Homo sapiens: one gene and its partners. The protein of the gene in region 1 purifies or fractionates together with the protein of each later gene. This does not show direct contact. Each region holds a gene or a part of one and is shown on either strand. Other genes may lie near its edges. The genes, in order: PPP1R12B, GMDS, ASB1, IMPACT and PPP6R2.

The links.
Region 2: the proteins of PPP1R12B (region 1) and GMDS purify together in Homo sapiens (affinity purification with mass spectrometry; one large-scale study listed by BioGRID and IntAct). This does not show direct contact.
Region 3: the proteins of PPP1R12B (region 1) and ASB1 purify together in Homo sapiens (affinity purification with mass spectrometry; one large-scale study listed by BioGRID and IntAct). This does not show direct contact.
Region 4: the proteins of PPP1R12B (region 1) and IMPACT purify together in Homo sapiens (affinity purification with mass spectrometry; one large-scale study listed by BioGRID and IntAct). This does not show direct contact.
Region 5: the proteins of PPP1R12B (region 1) and PPP6R2 purify together in Homo sapiens (affinity purification with mass spectrometry; one large-scale study listed by BioGRID and IntAct). This does not show direct contact.

What each region holds. Positions count from the first base shown.
Region 1 is NC_000001.11:202,421,458-202,425,777, forward strand, and holds part of PPP1R12B (protein phosphatase 1 regulatory subunit 12B), read left to right. Parts: intron 1-1,162; coding exon 1,163-1,281; intron 1,282-4,108; coding exon 4,109-4,268; intron 4,269-4,320. UniProt on the Homo sapiens protein: Regulates myosin phosphatase activity. Augments Ca(2+) sensitivity of the contractile apparatus.
Region 2 is NC_000006.12:1,930,652-1,934,971, reverse strand, and holds part of GMDS (GDP-mannose 4,6 dehydratase), read left to right. Parts: intron 1-4,320. UniProt on the Homo sapiens protein: Catalyzes the conversion of GDP-D-mannose to GDP-4-dehydro-6-deoxy-D-mannose.
Region 3 is NC_000002.12:238,433,146-238,437,465, reverse strand, and holds part of ASB1 (ankyrin repeat and SOCS box protein 1), read right to left. Parts: intron 3,913-4,320; coding exon 3,771-3,912; intron 1,756-3,770; coding exon 1,453-1,755; intron 1-1,452. UniProt on the Homo sapiens protein: Probable substrate-recognition component of a SCF-like ECS (Elongin-Cullin-SOCS-box protein) E3 ligase complex which mediates the ubiquitination and subsequent proteasomal degradation of target proteins.
Region 4 is NC_000018.10:24,439,732-24,444,051, reverse strand, and holds part of IMPACT (protein IMPACT), read right to left. Parts: intron 3,557-4,320; coding exon 3,434-3,556; intron 1,004-3,433; coding exon 900-1,003; intron 1-899. UniProt on the Homo sapiens protein: Translational regulator that ensures constant high levels of translation upon a variety of stress conditions, such as amino acid starvation, UV-C irradiation, proteasome inhibitor treatment and glucose deprivation.
Region 5 is NC_000022.11:50,419,507-50,423,826, forward strand, and holds part of PPP6R2 (serine/threonine-protein phosphatase 6 regulatory subunit 2), read left to right. Parts: intron 1-2,747; coding exon 2,748-2,874; intron 2,875-3,955; coding exon 3,956-4,108; intron 4,109-4,320. UniProt on the Homo sapiens protein: Regulatory subunit of protein phosphatase 6 (PP6). May function as a scaffolding PP6 subunit. Involved in the PP6-mediated dephosphorylation of NFKBIE opposing its degradation in response to TNF-alpha.

The DNA of each region.
Region 1 (4,320 bases):
AACACACCATCTCTACTAAAAAAATACAAAAAATTAGCTGGGCGTGGTGTCACATTCCTGTAATCCCAGCTAATCAGGAGGCTGAGGCAGGGGAATTGCTTGAACCTGGAACGTGGAGGTTGCAGTGAGCCGAGATCGCACCATTGCACTCCAGCCTGAGTGACAGACCAAGACTCTGTCTCAAAAAAAAAAACAAAAAAAAAAGGGGTTTCTTCAATATAGTAGGGGTCCAGTAAATGTTTATTGAATTGTTGAATGGATTGAAGTCTAATTTGAATCATTTTTCTTTTTCCTTTAAACACTTCTGAGTATTTGATAGAGCTCCTAGCGTTATTAGAGTTCTCACTGGCCCAAAAGTGACTTGATCTAAAGAAAAGATGAACTAGATTTGAAGTCAAGACTGGGGCTGTACCCTCTGCCATTTACCCGCTATGTGGTTTTGAGAAAATTACTTAATATGTATGAACCTCAATTTCTTAAAGTCATGGTAATAATACCCACATTGCCTACTTCATAATGTTGCCTAAGACTTATGATATAATTTTATGTGAAAGCACTCTGAAAATCAAAAAGGATCTATGTAAGGTATTGAATTATCAGACCTTTCTTCTTCAGAATCAAGTATTCTATTTGGATTTAGAATTTAATTATTTAACATTTTAATATTTCTTCTTAAGTAATTTAGTTTCGTCTTACAGCACAGGAAGATTTCATGTGGATGTCTGGTTGATAGGAGAGTTTTATGGAGGCATAATTTAGGCAGATTTATGCAAATTTTAATGCACACTTTATTCTTCTATTTTCACACCCACAGCACTACTTAATAAGCTCCAGTGTGGCACTGGGAAAGTTTAAGGCTGCATGCCTTCTTTATGTTACTTAGAAATTCTCTTGCCATCCACTGGGAGTGAGAGGATGGGAGTTAGTAATATGAGTGTGAAAGAAATCCTGTTTGTTGGCATTGCTCTAGTCAGGAAATGGGGAAGCCTTCAGTCTTAATTATTGAAGTTTAAGGCACATAGAAATTAATAATGGAATATCTTAACTGAGACCATATTTTAAACTCAAAATAGAGACTTCGCTGTGTATTGAATGCCAGATGCATGGGTAAAATTTATATTAGATTGACAGATAATATTGATCCTGGATCTTGTCTACGCAGGTATTTCATTAATCACGGAGCCAGTGTAGGTATTGTCAATAGTGAAGGTGAAGTTCCCTCTGACCTTGCAGAAGAGCCAGCCATGAAGGATCTTCTTCTGGAGCAAGTAAAGAAGCAAGGTAACCTCATGGATTGGAGGGGGCCAGGAAAGATTCTCAAACACTGCCATTTACAGAAAATAATCCATTTGCTGTGCAGAGCATTTCACTATCACATGACAGGAGAGGATTTGATCTGTCTGCACTGCATTAATCATTAATCCAGCATCATGTATCCTCATAATAACTCAGACAAGAATAGGCCAGATGTCAAAAGGATGACCAATCATTCCTTGTTTTTGCCATTCAGAGGTTGCATACCCATCATACAATTAAGAGTGACCTGATGAGGACTGTGTGTATGCACAGTACTGTGTGTATGCATGGTATTGGGATACAGTGTAAATTTGAGAATTGGCTAAACTGAGTTTGTGACTTTGCATCTTTTCCCTTGTTGAGAGCTAAAAGTGGTGCTGATAAAGATATTTATTGTAACTAATCATGAGAATTAGTATGATAATTTGTTAAGGTGAGGAAGCTAACTTAGAATAATATATTCTAAAAATGCTTATTCTTATTTTATAGTTTTAGGAGAATCGATTTCACAGAATAGGATGGAATTTTTCAACCTGGAAGTCCCTGGGTTCTTTTTCCACCACAAAACTCTGCGGACAAGATTTGTAGTGATTTTTTTTTTTAGTCCTTCTGCTAAACTACCTTACTCACAATCTTGCAGTTCATCCCAGAGGATTTAGCTCCAGTGGTCTTTCCCAATATGAACTTTTAGAACAGTCAGGGCCAATTCTTGCTATGCGCATTGTTTACATATTATCCAAAACTGCTTTTGTGCCACAACAGCAGAGTTGAGTAGTAGTGATAGATTGGATGAACCACAAACCTGAAAATACATATTGGCCCTTTGGAGAAAGTATGCTGATCCTACCTTAATATAGTGATGTTCTAGGTCAGTAACTACTTGCTTTTGCTGCCTTTCATGTATAGTTTTTCTGTCCTATTTTGTTTGTTTGTTTGTTTTTTGTTTTTGAGACAGGGTCTCACTCTGTTGCCCAGGCTGGAGTGCAGTGGTGCCGTCTCAGCTCATTGCAACCTCTGCCTTTCAGGTTCAAGTGATTGTCCTGCCGCAGCCTCCTGAGTAGCTGGGACTACAGGTGTGCACCACCATGCCTGGCTAATTTTTGTATTTTTTGGTAGAGACAGGGTTTCACCATGTTGGCCAGGCTGTTCTTAAACTCCTGACCCCAAGTGATCCACCAGCCTCGGCCTCCCAAAGTGCCGGGATTAAAGGTGTGAGCTATAGCGCCTGGCTTTGTGCGCTATTGAATTGAAGAATTTTATGCTTAGCTTAACCTCCAGCCTCAATCAGTTTTATCTCCTAAGATTTGCTTTAAAATGTACAAACAACTTTAAAAAAATCAGTTTTAAAAAATAGTTTAGATTGGAGCAACCACTTTTTCTGTTTTGATTGCTGACTCTTCAATGAGGGAACATACTCTGTTGAAAGGGGTATTCATATATATGTTTAACTTTCCAGCACTGCTAACACTTCTTTGTGTTTGGAGTACTGATCTGATTTAAATTGGTTACCTCTTCACCCCATCCATCTCCCAAAATCACACAGATAATACTTAGGTAGTTGACAGGTTCTCTCTTTTTTTTTTTTTTTGAGACAGAGTCTCACTGTGTCTCCCAGGCTGGAGTGCAGTGGCGCAATCCCAGCTCATTGCAACCTCCGCCTCCCAGGTTCAAGCAATTCTCATGACTCAGCCTCCCAAGTAGCTGGGATTACAGGCGCCCACCACTATGCCCAGCTCATTTTTGTATTTTTGGTAGAGACAGGGTTTCACCATGTTGATCAGGCTTGTCTCGAACTCTGATCTCAGGTGATCCACCCACCTAGGCTTTCCAAAGTGCTGGGATTACAGGCATGAGACACCGCACCCAGCAGTTTCTCTTTTAAGAGCTGAAAGGGAGTAGACCAAGCACAAAGACTGCTAATGAGTGTAAAACTTTTTGAATGGGTATGTTTGTATTTGGGACATTTTATTATTTTGTATAATGGGGTATGCCTCACCCTAACCCCTTTTCACTGGCACAGATATTGGAGAGTTATTGGCTAAAGGGAGGAACTCTTGGAGTTCTTTCATAATGTTTTTAAGGAAAACAAAATCTGCATTCCCTTGAAAGCAGACAGGTTTTTAAACTGCAGATCACCTACTAATCTGTCCTAGATTATATATCTTCAAGTCAGTGTATTTACCTGTATATGGAAATGAACTTTAGAGATAGTTCAATTTTTAAAGTATATCAATACCTGAAACCAAGATTTTGGATACTCATCCTATGGTATAGTGAGTGGATAGGGACCCAGAAGAGGAATGACAGAGAGGGACCCAGGATATCGGAGTTCTAGCGGCAAGTTCTGTCACTAATGTGTTTTGTGGCTTTGAGCAAGATTCCTAACCTTTCTATTTTTATTTCCTCATCTGTTAAATGAAGATTGTAATATCTATTATATTTACCTTGAAGGATTGTTGGGAAACTAAAGTCATATAACATGTAAAAAGACTTGGAAGTTTATAGCTTTGTACAAATATTATAATGTAAAAATAATGTCCCCTTTGTCTTTATGTTCTGTTGAAAACAATTTTAGGTGCATTCCCTTAATGGATCTGTATCACATAATATTTAACCTGATGATTTAATCCTGGTAAGACCATTAATATGTGTACAAATGCCATTGATCTTCTAAATTTGATAATTACCCAACTTGATGGCTAAATTGTTATTTGTATTTATGTTTATGATGTGCTTTAATCTAAGGAAAATATCCTGTCAAACTTAAGTGGAGCTTTAGTAATCCTGGCTGTCTGGTATCTGGTTTCTGTAGGAGTTGATCTAGAGCAGTCAAGAAAAGAAGAAGAGCAGCAGATGTTGCAGGATGCCCGCCAGTGGCTCAACAGTGGGAAAATAGAGGATGTGAGGCAGGCTCGCTCAGGGGCTACAGCCCTTCATGTGGCTGCTGCCAAGGGCTACTCTGAAGTCCTCAGGTATTGTCCATTTACATCAATCAGGAGTGGTTCACTGGGAGAAGATGGAATA
Region 2 (4,320 bases), on another chromosome or scaffold:
GCAAAACAGCACAAGGCTAGAAAGCCAGTGAGACAGGCCTGGGTCCGGCTCGGCTACTTGTCCTGACTCAGGACAGGTGTGCAGCCTCTGTGCGTTTCTCTTTCTTCACCTCTCACTTGGGATAGTCTCAGCCCTCATGTTCTATGCTTTTATATAGTTTCTTCCTTAAAAGAGCATTCTTCTGTAACATGGAGTAAAAATGAGGAGAGCAAATTTAAAAAAAAAATCATTTTAAGCCTTTCTTGAGAATTAAGTAGTAAAACATGTGGTTACAAAAATGTTTAAAATTAATCCAAAACTTTTTCTTGAAATCAAGAAAACAATTGTATTTATAATAAAATAAAAAAGAATAAAGTGTTTAGGAACAAATTTAGCAGAAGTGTAAAAATTATTCTCTGAAAACTATTAAACATTGTTGAAAGAAATTTTAAAAGACCAAAATAAAGGAGAAAGACATCCTATATTCATGTATCGGAAGGCACAATAATGTTAGCATGGGCATAGCCTCCATTTTGATCTACAGATTCAACATGATCCCTTTCAGAATCCCTGTTGGTGTTTTTGCAGAAATCAACAAGCTGATCCTAAAGTTCATATGGAAATTCAAGGGACAGAGAATAGCTAAAATAACCTTAAAAAAGAACAAAGTTGGAGAACTCATACTTCCTAATTTTTAAACTTGCCACAGAGCTACAGTAACCAGGACTGTGTGGTACTGTCATAAGGATAGACATAGAGTAAGTACATCAATGAAATCGAATTGAAAGTCAGAAATTGTCTCCCACATTTTTCATTAATTAATTGATTTTTGAGGAAAATGCTATTGAATGGGAAAAATAACCTTTCTAACAAATAATACTGAGACAGCTGGATGTCAACATGCAAATGAATGAAGTTAGACCCTTTCATCACACCATATATAAAAATTTACTAAAAATTGATCAAAAATTCAAATGTAAGAAGAAAAACTATAAAACTCATAAAAATATATAGGAATAAATCTTCATGACCTTGGATTAACGAAGCCTTCTCGAATATGACACCAAAAGCATCTGCCACACAAGCGAATGTAGACAAATTGGACTTCATCAAAATTAAAAGATAAAAAAGCTTTTATGCTTCAGAGAGCACAACCAAGAAAGTGAAAAGTCAGCCTACAGAATGAGAGAAAATCTTTGCAAATTATATAGCTGATAAGGGACTTGGATCCAGAATGTATAAAGAATTCTTACAACTCTATAATAAAAAGATAAGTAATCCGATTTAAAAATGGACAAAGGATCTGAATAGACATGTCTCCAAAATTGATATACAAGTGGCCAGTAGGCACATGAAAAGGTAGTTGCTTCATATGATTAGTTATTGAGAAGGACACATCGGAACCACAATAAGATACCACTCGGTGCCAACTAGCATGACTACAGTTTAACAGACCATAACAAGTACTGGGGAGAATGGGAAGAAATCAGAGCCCTGTTACCCTGCTGGTGGGAATGTAAAGTGGTGCAGCCACATTGGAAAAGTCTACAGTTCCTCAATTGGTAAAACAGAGTTCTCATATGACCCAGCAATTCCACCCCTAGGTATATACCTAAAAGAAATTAAAGCATACGTTCACAAAAAGGCATGAACGCTCATGGTAGCATTATTCACAAAAGGCAAAGGATGGAGGCACCACAGATAGTCATCTCGTGGACGGTTAAATAAAATTTGGTATATACATATAATAGAATATTATTTGGCCATAAAAAAGGAACAATGTACTGATTCAAGCTACAGTATGGATGAACCTTGAAAATGTTATGCTAACTAAAAGAAACCAGAAACAAAGACCAGACATTAATATAATTCCATTTATAGGAAGTGTCCAGAATAGGCAAATCTAGAGATAAAAGGTAGATTATCTGTATGCCAGGGCTAGGGTACTAGGAGAAAACTGGTGAGTGACTGCTAAATGATACAGGGTTTCTTTTTGGGATGATGAAAGTGTTCTGAAATTGATTGTGATGATGGTTGTACATTTCTATGAATATAAGAAAAGCCATTGAAGCATATGCTTTAAATGAATGAATTGTATGCTATGTGAATTATATCTCAAAATAGCTGTTCTAAATAATAGTTAAAATTACATTTTGAGCGGGCGCGGTGGCTCATGCCTGTAATCCCAGTGCTTTCGGAGGCCAAGGCAGGTGGATCACGAGGTCAGGAGATCGAGACCATCCTGACTAACACGGTGAAACCCCGTCTCTACTAAAAAATACAAAAAATTAGCTGGGCGTGGTGACGGGCACCTGTAGTCCCAGCTTTTCGGGAGGCTGAGGCAGGAGAATGGCGTGAACCCGGGAGGCGGAGCTTGCAGTGAGCCGAGATCGCGCCACTGCACTCCAGCCTGGGTGACAGAGTGAGACTCCATCTCAAAAAAAAAAAAAAAAAAGAATTAGAAATTATAGTTAATTTTGGCTAGTTATCCAAGATAACTTTAGGAACCAGATAAGAAAAGATCCACCTTTCTAGCACGACATGAAAGTTCTGGTAATATAAGAACTTGGTAGTCATATAGCTCTCGATTTGAATGCTGTTTTAGAATAGTTAATTTATATAGCTTCCCTGAATCTCAGCTTCTTCATGTACAAAATGGGGGTAATATTAGCACATGGGTTGCTCGGAAAATTAAATGAGTTACCCCATCTAAAGAGCTCAGCACAGTGCTATCAGCGATAGCCCTCATTGGAGGTGCCATAACCATCATAAGGTTGTGGTAAGAGTTGGAAGAGAAAGGCCCTTCCTCATCTTTGCAAGTGCCGTTCCTCCTGCCTGGAGTACCACCCTGTCTCACAGCTTGATGAGTCCCTTCATGACCTCACTGGTAGACTCCATTCAAGCTCCATTTCTGGTAGGCATTTCTCACGTGCGTTGCGCCTGGCAGCCATGCTACAACCCCAAAGGCTTTCCCCCCTTGCAGACCTGGCATTTTACTAGGTTCAGCACTGGTTTATTGGCCCACCTGACCCTCTCTGTGATACCTGAGAGCAGGGGCTGCTGCTTCTCTCCCAGATCCCCAGTGCCTAGCTCAGTGCTTAGTGATTGGTGGGTGCGTAGTCAACACTGGGTAAAAGAATCAATAAATTGTATGAATAGGGTCAAATACTTCCATTGGACTCCCAAACATTACTTTACTGGTAAACAGGTTAATCTGAAATGTTTTATGTTGGAATCTTCATTTAATAGTTTGCCATCATTGGTTTCTTAGTATACTTTGAGAAAATAGTATAGTCCTGACATTGAAATAATGATAAACATCAAAAAACCTAAATTTAATTCTTACAAGTCAATAGAAAAATTTTTAAAATTACTAATTAGCCACTAATTACTTACTGGCTAATAAGTAGTTTTTCATTTCGAAAGGCACTTTTTTTTGAAGGACCTCTATGTGCTATATAAACCTCTGTGGAAAGTTGAAACTTTGTATTTCTTAACATACCATCTGAATTGACAAGGGGAATTGAAAATTTGGATTTCCACGGTAGTCCCATTGTATTTCTTAATGATAATGGTGTAGGTATAAATGTACGTATCAAGTTTGTGGAGTAAGTGAATCTGGTGTATGTTTGAACTTGCGCTAAGCCACGTTCTTGCCAAAATTTGGAAAACCTATTTAGAAATATTCCCCTTATCCCTGTGCCAGCTCTCCAGAAGCCAAACACTTTGATCATAATATTTGCCTCCCTGCTTCATCTGCAAAAGAACATAGTTAAAGTCATTGGTATGTGATAAATCATGATATTCACATATCTAAACTGTATGAATCCATTATTAACTAGCTAATATGAGTATTATTACCTTGAGAATTTGGTATTAAATGGTGTTTTCTCATAACCTTACCTAGATAACAAGGTAAAACTGTCTCAGAAGTGCCTTTTAACTTTGTGATCTTTGAAAAAGCAGATAGAGTTTTCATTAAAGACCAGAGAACATTAAAACAATTTCAGTGCTTTCATCAAGATATGGCCCCTTTCAACCAATCATTTCAAAATATTACACAAAATTTAGGAGCCCTTTCTGTAAATAACACTGAAATGAATTTGGAAAGTGGCATTGCCTTAAGTATAGTACAGAGAAACTTTTGCCCAGGGGCCATATCATATCATTTGGATGGCTGTGCAGGTTTCTAAATAAGAGCCATCACCACTTATTTTGTTAAGAGAAAGGCAGCCTAAATAAATTCCTTTCTTGTTTCCTTTAACTAGTTACCCTGTGAACTAAGCTATGTTTCTTTCTCTCCCCATGAGTCCCAAAGTAGCTTTATTAATAGGAATATAT
Region 3 (4,320 bases), on another chromosome or scaffold:
GAGGTCAGAAGATCGAGACCATCCTGGCTGACATGGTGAAACCCCATCTCTACCAAAAATACAAAAATTAGCTGGCCATGGTGGTGGGCACCTGTAGTCCCAGCTACTCAGGAGGCTAAGGAAGGAGAACTGCTTGAACCCAGGAGGCGGAGGTTGCAGTGAGCCAAGATCGCGCCACTGCACTCCAGCCTGGGCAACACTGCAAGACTCTGTCTCAAAAAAAATAAAATAAAATAAGACTGTAAACCTAGTATAATGGAAGAGGAAAGAAAAAAACAACATATAAGAAGAAAAGATATCAAATGGAAACAGTTACAAAACAGAAAGATAACAGAAACAGACCCCAACATCAGCTATAGCAATAATGTTCACTGTATTAAAAAGCAAAAACTCCTAGACAAATGGTTCTACACAAGCACAAACAGAACTACTGAAACTCCCTAGGGTTAAAACTAAATATTACATAATGCCATGTAAATGGGCCTTAAATAAAACTAATAGTACTCTTGTTTTGATAGAGCATAATATGTAAGCAGGAACTTTTATGAGTTCAATTAGCATCAAAATTTTCAAAGCAAAACCTATTCAAAGTACAAGGGGAAAAAATGGCAAAATCAAAAATGTGATCAGAGACTAACAGAATTCTTTAAATTTCTGGCAGATCCAATGACAAAAATGTAAAAAAAAAAAAGAGAGAGAGAGTGCTAACCTAACAAAGTATAATATGTAAACAAAACACCCATGGTCATGTACTTGTTTCAAGCATTCACAACAATGTAGTCTGACATTAAAAAATAAGAAGAAGCCAGCATTGTGGTGCACACCTGTAGTGTCAGCTACTAAGGAGGCTAAGGCAGGAGGGTCACTTGAGCCCAGGAGTTTGAGGCTGCAGTGAGCTATGATCACGCCACAGCACTCAAGCCTGGGCAACAAAGTAAGACCCCACCTCAAAAACTAAACAAAAATAATAATAATAATAATTTTTTTACGTCAAAGAATCCCCAAAATGAAAACTATCTGGTCCATATTATCTGAGCATAATACAACAAAAAGCATTATTAAAACCTTATCTTCCATAACTCTAAGAACAAAGAGGAAATCAACTTCAATTAGAGCTATTTAAATAATAAGGAAAAAGCCTAGAGAGGATGGTCAAAACTATAGTAAAAGGTAAATTAACGTTGCAAGTTTGCATTCTTAAGAAAAAATGAATAAGCAGTCAACTCAAAAGGGAAAAAAAACTAAAAATTAGAAAAAGATAAAAGTAAATATAAAGGAACAGGTAAGCCAAAAAACAAAGAGACCTGATAAAGCCAAGAGGCAGCTCTTTACAAAGGCCAGCAAAACAGGCGAGTCATCTAAAGAGCCGAATTCTAAAGACAGAAAAACTGCAAAATACAGAGAAGAAAAATAAAGTGGCTGCAGGAGCCAGGCGAGCTCCACAGTACTGGCCTGATGAGGGCCTTCAGGATGTCTGCCCGGCCCACGCGAGAGGCGTGGTAGACAGGGGTGCTGCGATGGTGCCGGCTTCCGTTGGGGTCCGCGCCAGCTTCGAGAAGGATCTGGGTACTCTCTAGGTGCCCGTTCACCACAGCCACATACAGGGCCGTCTGTCCTTTTACGTCCACCAGATCCACCTCGGCCCCCTTCCGGATGAGGAAGTCCACACAGCTCCCATGGCCTGCAGTGGCCGCGATTCGCAACGGTGTGCAGGGGAGCCAGCCACAGCACCAGACAGACTTCTCGTTGATGCGGCTGCAGGAGGAACACAAGGGGGCTCATGAGAGGCAGCCGCAGGACAGGGACGGGCTGCACTGCCCCCCTCACCCTGGCAGCATGGACACGGTCCCCCTCTGGTTAATAACGCCTCCACCTGGGCTCTGCCTTCTGAAATGCTCTCACACCTTTCCCCTGCGGGACCGGGGCATGGCAGGGCAGGCATTACGAGCCCCATTCCAGAGACAGGAAACTCAAGGCACCTGCAGAATGATCAGCACCAAAACTAAGATCTCTAGTTCTTAGATTTCCTGACTGCCATCTGAAGTGCCTTCCTCTACAAAGGTGGGAAGGGTCTGCCTGGGAGGCAGTGCCAAATGAACAGCGCACTCGCCCGGGAGTCTGGGTAAGAGCCCCTAGGCTGCTCTTCCCCAGTTACCATCTGTGAAGGCTTGAGGCTGGGCCTCTCTAGGCCTCAGCATCCTCACCAGGACTAGGTGACTATGTAGGCCCCCAACCTCTAACACTGCACAAATGATGGCCTGAAGGAATCACTAAGGTGGCACGGGGGCTACACCCCTGGCCAAGAGCGGCAGAGGAACCTGTCCAGACTCAGCTCTCGGCAGATGTCACAATCAGACTGCAACTGCCTGCCCCACCCACCGACCCAGCAAGGCAGCGACCGCAACGGGTTCACAGCGAGCTCCCAGTGTCACTGAGAACAAAGCTCAGAGGCCCAGAGCACCAAACCAGGGCCCAGGAACATGCAGGGGAAGCAGCTCCCAAGCCAGCCCTCGGGGCTCCTCCGCCAGCTGCGCCTAGGCTCTGACTGCCCAGGAAAGTCGAGGAACACTCCAGGAACTCATCACCAAAGAAGCAAATAGCAATGGGAAAATGTAAAGAACCAGAGATGCCCTGAGCCTGAGTAAAAGAAGGAGGAGAAACAGTGCTGGGAAATGCAATATAGAAAGACTTGGGCTGAGACCTCACCGAACTCTATTTCATTCTGTTACATCTGCAAGTTGAATTAAGGTTTTCTTTGGGCTTGAGTCACCCACTTTAAATATCTGTGCGTAATCCATCTGTCTTCCTATGACAGTCCTTTCTGGTATTTTTCTTTTAAATACTGATATCTGTTTTGATGAAATACTGCTAAGACACTAGAAGGAAATGAAGAAATACATTCCTGTACTGTTAGAAATCCTTTTCTTGGGAACTATGCAAAGAAAAGTTGTGGCATTAGTTTCGGCGCCAACATGTAGGCATTGCTTCTACCACCGCACTGGCATTTGGGTCCTGAAGGGAACGCGGAAACACAACAGCAGCATGGATAGTTCCTGGCTGCTACTGAGTTTAAGCTCTAGCTGGGACTGCAACCTTAGACCCGCAGAACAATCAGAGAACAGTCCAGAGAGCAAGCAGACTCTGCTCCCCCAGGTGTCCTGAGCAGGGAGAGGGAAGGGCAAGCATCACTTGCTGCGAAGGAAGGGCTGGAGCCATTTTGTGGGGACAGGCAGAGTTTGGCAAGGCCAGGACAGGGGACCACTGATGAGGGGAACAGAAAGGAGAAGGCTGATGAGGTAAAAGGGCCTAAGGCTGAGGCCCAGGTCCCGGGGGCAGATGACTGAGGGCCTGAGAAGCTAGAGGAAAGGGCACTAGGGAAGGTGGTGAAGCAGGGTGAATGTACAGAAGCGCCTGCAATTAAGAGCCACGAGAAACCCAAGATGGGGCAGGGCCGCCACTGAAGAGGGAAACAGTGGTACCTTCAGGAGTGACATCAGGAGGCTGAGGCCCACAGAAGGCCAGAAGTTGCCAGAAAACACTAAGGTTAATGGCAGAGCAGGACCTGAACTCAGGTCTCCCTGCCCACACTGTCTGGCTGTCTCCTACAACTCTGACCATGCTGCCTCAGTCTCCTTTATCCCCGTCCTCTAAAACTGGAACACATTCCTCCCAACATCAAGGTCTTCATCTGCACAGCGACTGTGGGGCTCAGCTTCACACAGACCTTCAGGGCCCTAGTACCCGGACCAGCCCTGGGCAGCGCCGCTCACCTCCGGTAGCTCTCCTCTTGCAATAGGCTCCTGAGGGTCTGGAGGTCCCCGACGTAAGCTGCATCATGGAGCCTCGTGTCCTCACAGTGCTCCAGCGGATGATCACAAAATTGCTCCCTCAGCCACTCCTTCAGATTACGACCTGCACTGAAGAGAGGGGCTCCTGTTAGCTCATGGAGGCCCTGCCAAGACTAACCAAAAGGGGGTGCCATCTGCAGCGAGCCTTCCCTCTCCCAGCTACGGGGCACCTTCAAATGCTCAAGAAATAAATCACAAGCTGGGCATGGTGGCACGCCTGTAATCCCAGCTACTCAGGAGGCTGAGGCAGGATCACTTGAGGCCAGGAGTTCAAGATCAGCCTGGGCAACACAGCAATACCCTGTCTGTAAAAACAAAAGAAATAAATCACAGAAAATAGTAGAAACCTTCCCTTATTAAATTAGCACACTCCTGACACCAACGCTGACAAGAATAATTTTTTAAAAGTTGATGGGGCCCAGGAACTATAAGCCAAACCTACTGAAGAATAAAGAAACAAGATCCTAAAGAA
Region 4 (4,320 bases), on another chromosome or scaffold:
ACAGCCTGGTACAAAGAGCTGTATCCCTGAAGCCCAGGGCTTTAAAGAGCTTCAAGAGTAGGGTAGCTGCAAAGACCAAAGGAAGAGACTCATGCCTAAAACCTGCAGTAAATGAGACATTTTTAAAAATGTAACTTTACAGGTAGTATTGAAATTGCCTCGTACATCAATAATGTAAGCTGAGCTACATTATAGAAGCAAGGAAGAAGAAAAGGATTCTGCTGAAAGGAGAATGAGAAAGGCAAAGACCTAGGAATAGTTTATGGCTGAAACCTCTCCCATTTATATCCCTGGGTGGAAATATGGTCACCTAAGATCAAGAAGCACAAAGGAAAGTAAGTCAGGTAGGGAGGACTTGGTTTAGCCAGTCTGTCCACTGTCCCCTTTGTTGAATAATAACAGAGGAATGGACTTAGTTTCACAGAACTCCCATTCGACAGGACAAATAATTCTTTTTGACAAGGTATTAAGCATCATAATTTTCTCTAATAACACAATGGGTATTTCTTATTTAAAGATTCATTAGAGGGTTAACCCCTAATCAGAGTTTAGATACAATTTTGAAAGCAGTGACAGGCCTGGCTAGGTGGCTTATGCCTGTAATCCCAATACCTTGGATTGGGAGGGCTGGAGGCAGGAGGGCTGATTGAGTCCAGATTGAGACCAGCCTGGGCAACATGGTGAGACACCATCACAAAAAAAAAGAAAGAAAGCAGAGACAAACAGAAACAAAACAAATCTTCCGTGATTCACAGTAATTTGGGAGTAGAAAAATGAACAAATAATTTTTATCTTATATGAAAATAAAACATAAAAGTAAAAACAAGGGGATTATTGCAAAATCATTTACCTGAATTATTTTAGTAATCATCAAAGTGAGCTAGACAAAGGAACTTTACCTGTTTGGGACAAACCACTGGAGCCAAGTGTGCCTGAAAAGTACTTCTTCGGTCTGTAATAGGAATGCCATGATCAATCGGAGGTAATTCTTCTACTTCTACTTCTAGAAATGTAAAAGAAACTTTATTTTTTAAAAAGCCTTACATTCAAATACTGAAAAAAATGAAATGGGGGGGCAGCTGGGAAAGAAATGTAAATTACATGGCAAATCAACTAAAATAACCATTAATCGCTATCTACCAAAATTAAATTTAAATTATAATTTTAAGTAAAAAGTTTCTAACTATATTGTACATAAGATTAAAATACTTGATTTATAAATGATTTCCACCTGCCAAGGTTACCCAGGGGAAGCAGTGGGTTGGGACTAATCTTGAACTGCTGCAGTCAGTAGTGTAAGTTGGTACAATATCTAATATATAATTTTTAAGAGTGTAAAGGAGTCCTGAAACCAAAGATTTATAGCTGCTAATATAAAATTTATTTATCAGTTTCACTGTTGTTAGACCTCTGAGTTGGGAAAACTATGAATTTATATTCTTTATATTGTGTAGCTATAATATAATGCCTTCTGCTAATGAAACTGTTTCTACTTCATATGATGGAATTAAATACATCAATAATACATCCAATTGGTATTCCTTAAAGAGCATCATGATTTCCAGTTATTATACCTCTTAAAACAAGTTTAAGGATCATGGCTGGGCGTGGTGGCTCACGCCTGCAATCCCAACCCTTTGGGAGGCCGAGGGAGTGGATCACCTGAGTTCAGGAGTTTGAGACCAGCCTGGCCAACATGGTGAAACCCCCGTCTCTACTAAAATACAAAAATTAGCTGGGCATGGTGGCGTGTGCCTGTAATTCCAGCTACTCGGGAGGCTGAGGCAGGAAAATTGCTTGAACCTGGGAGGCGGAGGTTGCAGTGAGCCGAGTTTGTGCCATTGAACTCCAGCCTGGGCAACAGAGCAAGACTCCATCTCCAAAAAAAAAAAAAAAAAAAAGAATCACTAATTAACCCTCAATTCTGTTGAGAGACTTAATCGTCCTGGCTACTACTACCTGCCTCACTTAGGATGAAAAGTTATTCAAGACAAGAAAGTAGGTTTATGTAAGATGTTTTACACCTTCCCTCTGATACTGTTCTTTTCCTGAATTGATTTTGACTGCTGTACTAACATAGTAATAAGTCAAATACAGTATTAGGGTCAATATGAACTACTGACCAATTGATAGTATTTATTTATGAGTATGATTTTTATCCTTTTTCTTTTCATGGTAGATCCTGTTTTCAAAAGATATCATATGTCAAATCCACACACAAATAAATGATTAAAATGGGAGCTACTTAGGCTAGAGCATAAATGAGAGCCCTGGATGCTCCCCACTCTTTCATTTCCTCTTTGTTCCCTTCTACTAGTCCTGGACACCATTCAAAAGCCTTAAAACTCAGAGCACCTTTTAAAAGCTACTGTGTAATGACACAGGAAACCCCTCACCTTCAAACAGAATGAATATTCCCCCTGGTCTACCATGTTTTCCTAAGAGGCTTAGGGAAACTAACAATAACATTCAAAATTTTAAAATATTAAAATGAAACATAATATCACAGCAACCTATTTTTATGTTGAATACTACTCGATTACGAAACAAATTTGTTTAAACGAAAACTAGGCCGGGCGTGGTGGCTCACGCCTATAATAATCCCAGCACTCTGGGAGGATGAGGTGGGTAGGTCATTTGAGGTCAGCCTGGCCAACATGGCGAAACCCAATCTCTACTAAAAATACAAAAATTAGACAGGCATGGTGGCATGTGCCAGTAATCCCAGATACGTAGGAGGCTGAGGCAGGAGAATCACTGAACTTGGGAGGCAAGGTTGCATTGAACTGAGATCGTGCCACTGCACTCCAGCCCGGGCAACAGAGCAAGACTCTATCTCAAAAAAACAAACAAACAAACAAAAACTGAACTCAAGCTGGGCACAATGGTGCATGCTTGTAGTCCCAGCTACTCGGAGGCTGAGGTAGAAGGATCACTTGAGCCCAGGAGTTCAAGGTCAACTTGGGCAACACAGCGAGACCTTGTCTCTCAAAAAAAACCTCTTAAAGGCATTTTACTAGCTTTAATTTCCAGGGCTGCACTTTCAGTTAATATATTTGTATTTGTGAGCACAGACTAAAATTTAATCCTGAAACATCAGGAAACAGCTAAGGATTTCAATACAGAAATATAAAAACATGATGTTAACTAAAAACGTTAATAGCCTTTCTTAGTTTCAATTTCTTCCATCACTAAATCAAAACTCTAGAAAGTAGGGGGAAAAGAGTAAATTTCCATTTTTTCCTTGCCATTCTGATAAGACTTGGCAAACACCAAAATTGCCAACAGGCAGGAAAAAATTAATCTTATCTGCAAATTAATAACTCCTTCCTAAAACTGGAGAAAATTAGTAAATTTCTCTATCATCTCAAAGAACAATACATAATACTACCAACCCACTCTCCTCAAAAGAAATTAGTTAGTAACATTATACCTGTCCGAGTTTCACTGATATCAAAATCCAATGCTTTAAGCGAACTTTCCGGCTGACATGCTAAAATGAGATCATCTTCACATTCAACATCTTCCTCTTCAGTTTTCTTCTTTACATCTGGGCCTATGTGAATATGAGACACAATTACTTTATGACGCAGGTAAGAAACGATGCTTTTTAAAAAAAAATCACTGGGTCTTGGGTTCTAAATACCACTCTTCAACGAAAGGAACCAGCACTCAGCCCGTAGGAGAACTGGTTGATTCCTGAGTTGGAGCAAGGAAACTACAAGATGAACCTGGAACCTCATGTGGATCCACAAACTGGGAAATGCTCAAAAAGAGATGGGGCTTATAAAAAGAACACAGGAGTTAACCTGAAGGGGCTCTTAAAGGTCAAAGCTAGAACAATTTGAGCAACAAAAAAATATGATAGGATGGCATTTTAACCCATGGACTGAAATAATATACATGAGTCCATACTGATATAAATAATAAACAGATAAATAAATACATAAATGGGAAGAGACATCCCTTCCTCATAATAGAATTCCAATTACTAAATGAGGAAGGAATGAAGAAAATAGAAAATCATCATCAGGCAAACACCACAGTAATAAATATTGTTGACAAGTTCCATGGATAGATACTAAAATTAGTGGCAGAAAGTTTAAGGAGAAACAGGATATTAGCATAGCTTCAAAGTATCTCCCTCAAGCTACAAAGAGAAAGACAGTGACTGCAATGGTTAATCTTACATGTCAACTTGTCTAGGCCACAGTACCCATATATTTGTTTACTTTTGTTTGACACAGAGTCTCATTCCGTCACCCAAGCTGGAGTGCAGTGGCACCATCTCAGCTCGCTGCAACCTCCGCCTCCCAGGTT
Region 5 (4,320 bases), on another chromosome or scaffold:
TCAGTGATATGGCAGCCCACACGAGCAGTCTGGATTATGTCATTTGTGGTTTTAATTTTTGATTATGCAAGTAACAACATGGATAGATTCCCCTTGTTGAAGGCTTGACTTTATGGCTGTGGCCAAGTCCCCTTAGACCCTCATCATCACTGGTGCTCCCTCTCCAGCCTGAAGCTGCTCGTCACGACCAGTTGGCGATGCATTTGTCGATGTGCGTGGAACAGGTGTGGTTGGCAGGTTTTCCCCAAGGACTGTTCCGACAAGTCCCCACAGCTCCCGTGTGTGTTTGTGTGTGTGTCGCAGGGTTTCCACTCTGATGCATGGTTACATATACATGTGTTTATCTCCCATGCAGACTGGCCCTCACAGGGCAGGGGTGTGACACTCACCGCTGTCTCCCGTGCCCTGTGCACCCACGGGTCGGCACCGCCTGCTGAGCGTCGTGCTGAGCACTTTTTTCCCAGGCGACTCTCCTCCATTGCCCTTTCTCATTCATCAGGTGTCATTTCTGCACCCACTGTGCACTAACACGGGCCCGAGGAGACAGAGAACTGAGACACAGCCCCTCCCCTTTAATTGCTCCCAGTCTGGCACAGGAGGCCCGTCTGTGGACAGCGAGGGTGATGCAGAGTGGCGAGTGCAGTAGACATGCACCCAGTGCCTCGGGGCTCACAAGAAGGGACCCACATGGGGCTGGTGGGTGGAGCCTCGCAGTCAGGGACATTTTCCCTGAGAGGCCGCATCTGGTCAGACACAGCTCCTTGGATGAGGCAGTGAGGGGGTCCCAGTGTGGACACAAGCATGGGGCAGTATGTGGCAGAGGAGAGTGGAGCTTGCTTGGAGGTGCTCCTTTGCTGTGACCCCACATCGCTGTCCTGAGGTGCAGCTGTCGGAGGCTGCTGAGTCACGACAGTGAATGGGCAGAGACAGAGGAGTCAGCAGCAGAAGAGTGAGTTCGGGTGAAAGTTGAGTTTGTTTGAGGATATAGGTGCTGGAGACCCTTCTCTGACCCCCAGTAGAAATTTCAGGAAGTGTTTGAAACTGTTTCTCTGGATCATAGTGTGGCCTAGTCCTTCCCTCAAGTCATAGAAGGCTGGGCACTGCCAGAGCCGTTCAAGCAGTTGAAACTCCAAAGAGGATGCCCATGAGGCGCAAATGGAAAGACAGCCGAGTGGAGTCTGTGAGGGAGGCATTGGCACAAGGGGGTGTGGTTGGCCCGCCAGGTGCCCAGGAGATCCTATAGGGTGTGTCCCAAAAGGGCCACATCAGTGTCCTCTGGGCACTTCCCCTCCTGGCCTCACCCTGGCCCTTGAACCCCATCTCTGGATTCAGGTTCCCCACATGCCGGCAGGAACCTGATGTCTCAGGACGTTTCCGTCGTCTCCGTTCCATCACAGGCTGGGACGATGTCTAACTCTCCCAAGGTGGCCGTAGCTCCCTTATTTCCACGTTCTGGGGAGAACATAATTCAGCCCCCAACACTGATAGCCTGTGCTTTTTTAAAGTGAAAGAAAAAGGAACAATGAGAAAATGATAAGAAATTGACTTAACCTTGATAGTGAGGTTGTTAGGACTCTCTTTCTCTCTCTCTCTCTCTCTCTGTCTGTCTCTGGTAGTACCTAATACATATTTGTTAGTTTATTAACCAGAAGTAGTGTTATAATGTTACCGTTTTCTCTAGTTAGGCAACTGGAATATTGATATTTTAATCTTCATAAACCCAGGAAAGCTGAGCCACTTCTGAGGCCCAAGCTTAACCCTGTATGTGATAGAGGGGACTGTGTAAAAATCAGGAAAACAGAGATAAGCCAGCTGTTTCTCTTAGATTATTGTGATTATTATTATTATTATTTTCAGACAGTGTCTTGCTCTGTCACCCACGTGGGAGTACAGCAGCACGATCATATCTCAGCGTGGCCTCAGAGTCCTGAGCTCAAGCGATCCTCCCACCTGTCCCCCCCAAAGTGCTGGGATTATAGGTGTGAGCCACTGCACCTGGCTCTCTGATTTTTAAAATTATTTTGCATATTACTTTAAAAAATATATGATTACGTATTACTTTTACAACTGGAAAGAGTGTTTAAATAAATATCTCAGAAGACTTGCTTGAAAACACCACAGGGGGTAGGCGCAGTGGCTCACGCTTGTAATCCCAGCACTTTGGGAGGCCAAGGCGGGTGGATCACCTGAGGTCAGGTGATCGAGACCAGCCTGGCCAACATGGCAAAATCCTGTCTCTACTAAAAATACAAAAAGGAGGCTGAGGCAGGAGAATCGCTTGAACCCAGGAGGTGGAGGTTGCAGTGAGCTAAGATCGCACCATCGCACTCCAGCCTGGGTGACAGAGCGAGACTCTGGCTCAAAAAAAATAAAAATAAATAAAAATAAAAGTCGACACAGGAACAGTGAAAGAGACAGGGATAGCAGTGAAGGTTTTAAAAGTGGGACAGAGCAGGACCTCTAACTGGTGCTAGGGCCAGTGAGTCCTGTGTTGTGTCACTTGCCCTGCCTCCATATTCTCGGATGTCGCAAGCAAGCATCTGCCTGAAGGTCTTTAGTACCTTTCTCTTCTGCCTGTACCAGTCACCAGATCACGTGTGGAGACGCTGGGTAGCTGCACTGCTCTAGGGTTTCTTTTTGGGAAAGTTAAAAGGGCTCTTTCTGGAAGAAGCGGGTGCACTGAGTTGCTGGTGAGGTTGGACAGGGTCCTGGTGTCCCCGGTCTCCATCTGCTTTCCTCATCCACAGGACAGAGGGCTTGGTGGACTCCTTTTCTCAGGGACTGGAAAGGTCATACGCTGTCAGCAGCAGCGTACTACACGGCATCGAGCCTCGGCTGAAGGACTTCCACCAGCTCCTGCTCAACCCGCCCAAGGTAAATGGCCGTGGCGACTGCTGAGTGCCTTTGGAGGCGTCGCAGGAGAGGTTGATTTGCAGGGAGGAGAAGCCACAGCTTGTCCCATAGGTAGCAGAGTGTGGAGTGAATGTGTTCTAAGACGGCCATTCCCACACCCCCACTTGAGAAGCACCGGGCAGGTGCCAAAACACATTTTCAGGACTGCCCCTCCCAGATCTGCAAATGCTCATCTCTGCCTCTGCAAATGACCCCGAGGTCACCATAAGCCTGGCCTCCAAGTTGGGGGCACCTAGCTAAGGGGTGCTCGGCTCCTGAGAGGGGACCAGGGGGTGGCAGGGGAGGCCCTTTGCCCTGCTCAGCAGCATGTTGAGGGGGGTGAGGCACACAAAGGCTCCTCCTGGTTCAGACTGCCAGCCAGGCAACTCCCCATCCCGTCTCACCCTCCCCAGACACAACCCGACCCCTGCTGCATAGCACCCTCCTGACCTATAGCTCAGTTCCTCTCACTCGCCACCTTGGTAAGATCCACCTGTCCCACTAGCGAGCTCTGTGGGGGCCAAGATTCTGTTTTGTCAGCTGGAGGTTTCAGTGAAGAGAAGGTAGGTGCAGTAGGCTGAGTGTGGGGGATCAGAAAAGACCGCGGTCCATCGGAGGAGGCATTCCCGTCAGTGTCCCCAAAGTGTGTTCATGGGACACTTGTTAGCTTGGTGTTCTGAGATTGTGGCCGCAGAGGGACCCCCACTGGGCATCCTCAGTGAGGCATCGTGCCAAGGGCTCTGGCCTTAGACCGGTACTGCTGGCCCCATCTTGGACATCTCACCCGCTGAGGTGCACGGCTCTCTGGCCCTGCAGGCTCAGACTGGAGTGCCCGTGAGCATCCTGGGAGCACTCTCTGAAGCCCTGAGGGGAGCAGCAGGCTCTTCACCCCATTGATGCCTTCATTTCTTCTGGCAGACGGCCCTCCCTGAGGAACCCCCACCACATACCTCGCTACCCCAGGCTGGGTCCCAGCCTAGAGTGATGGGCATGAGCCCAGAGACTCCAGCAGTGGCCTCACTGCTCACAGGGCCTAACTGGGTGGTGCCTTCTGTGTTTGCAGAAGAAAGCGATCCTGACCACCATTGGTGTGCTGGAGGAGCCCCTGGGGAATGCCCGTCTGCATGGCGCCCGCCTCATGGCAGCACTGCTGCACACAAACACACCCAGCATCAACCAGGAGCTCTGCCGGCTCAACACGATGGACTTACTGCTGGTAAGTGGGCCCCTCAGCCAGCCCTGCATGTCTGTGAGTGTGCCGGGCATGGCCTGTGGACTTGTCAGGAGCAGCAGAGCAGGGCCCCAGCATTTGGACAAAGCTCTGCCACGGGGAGGTTCCAGTCCCAAGTCCCAAGGCTGGACTACAGGTCTCTGGCGGGGCACAGAGCAGCAGTGGGGTGTGTCTCAGCTGCAGGCTCATGGGAAGTG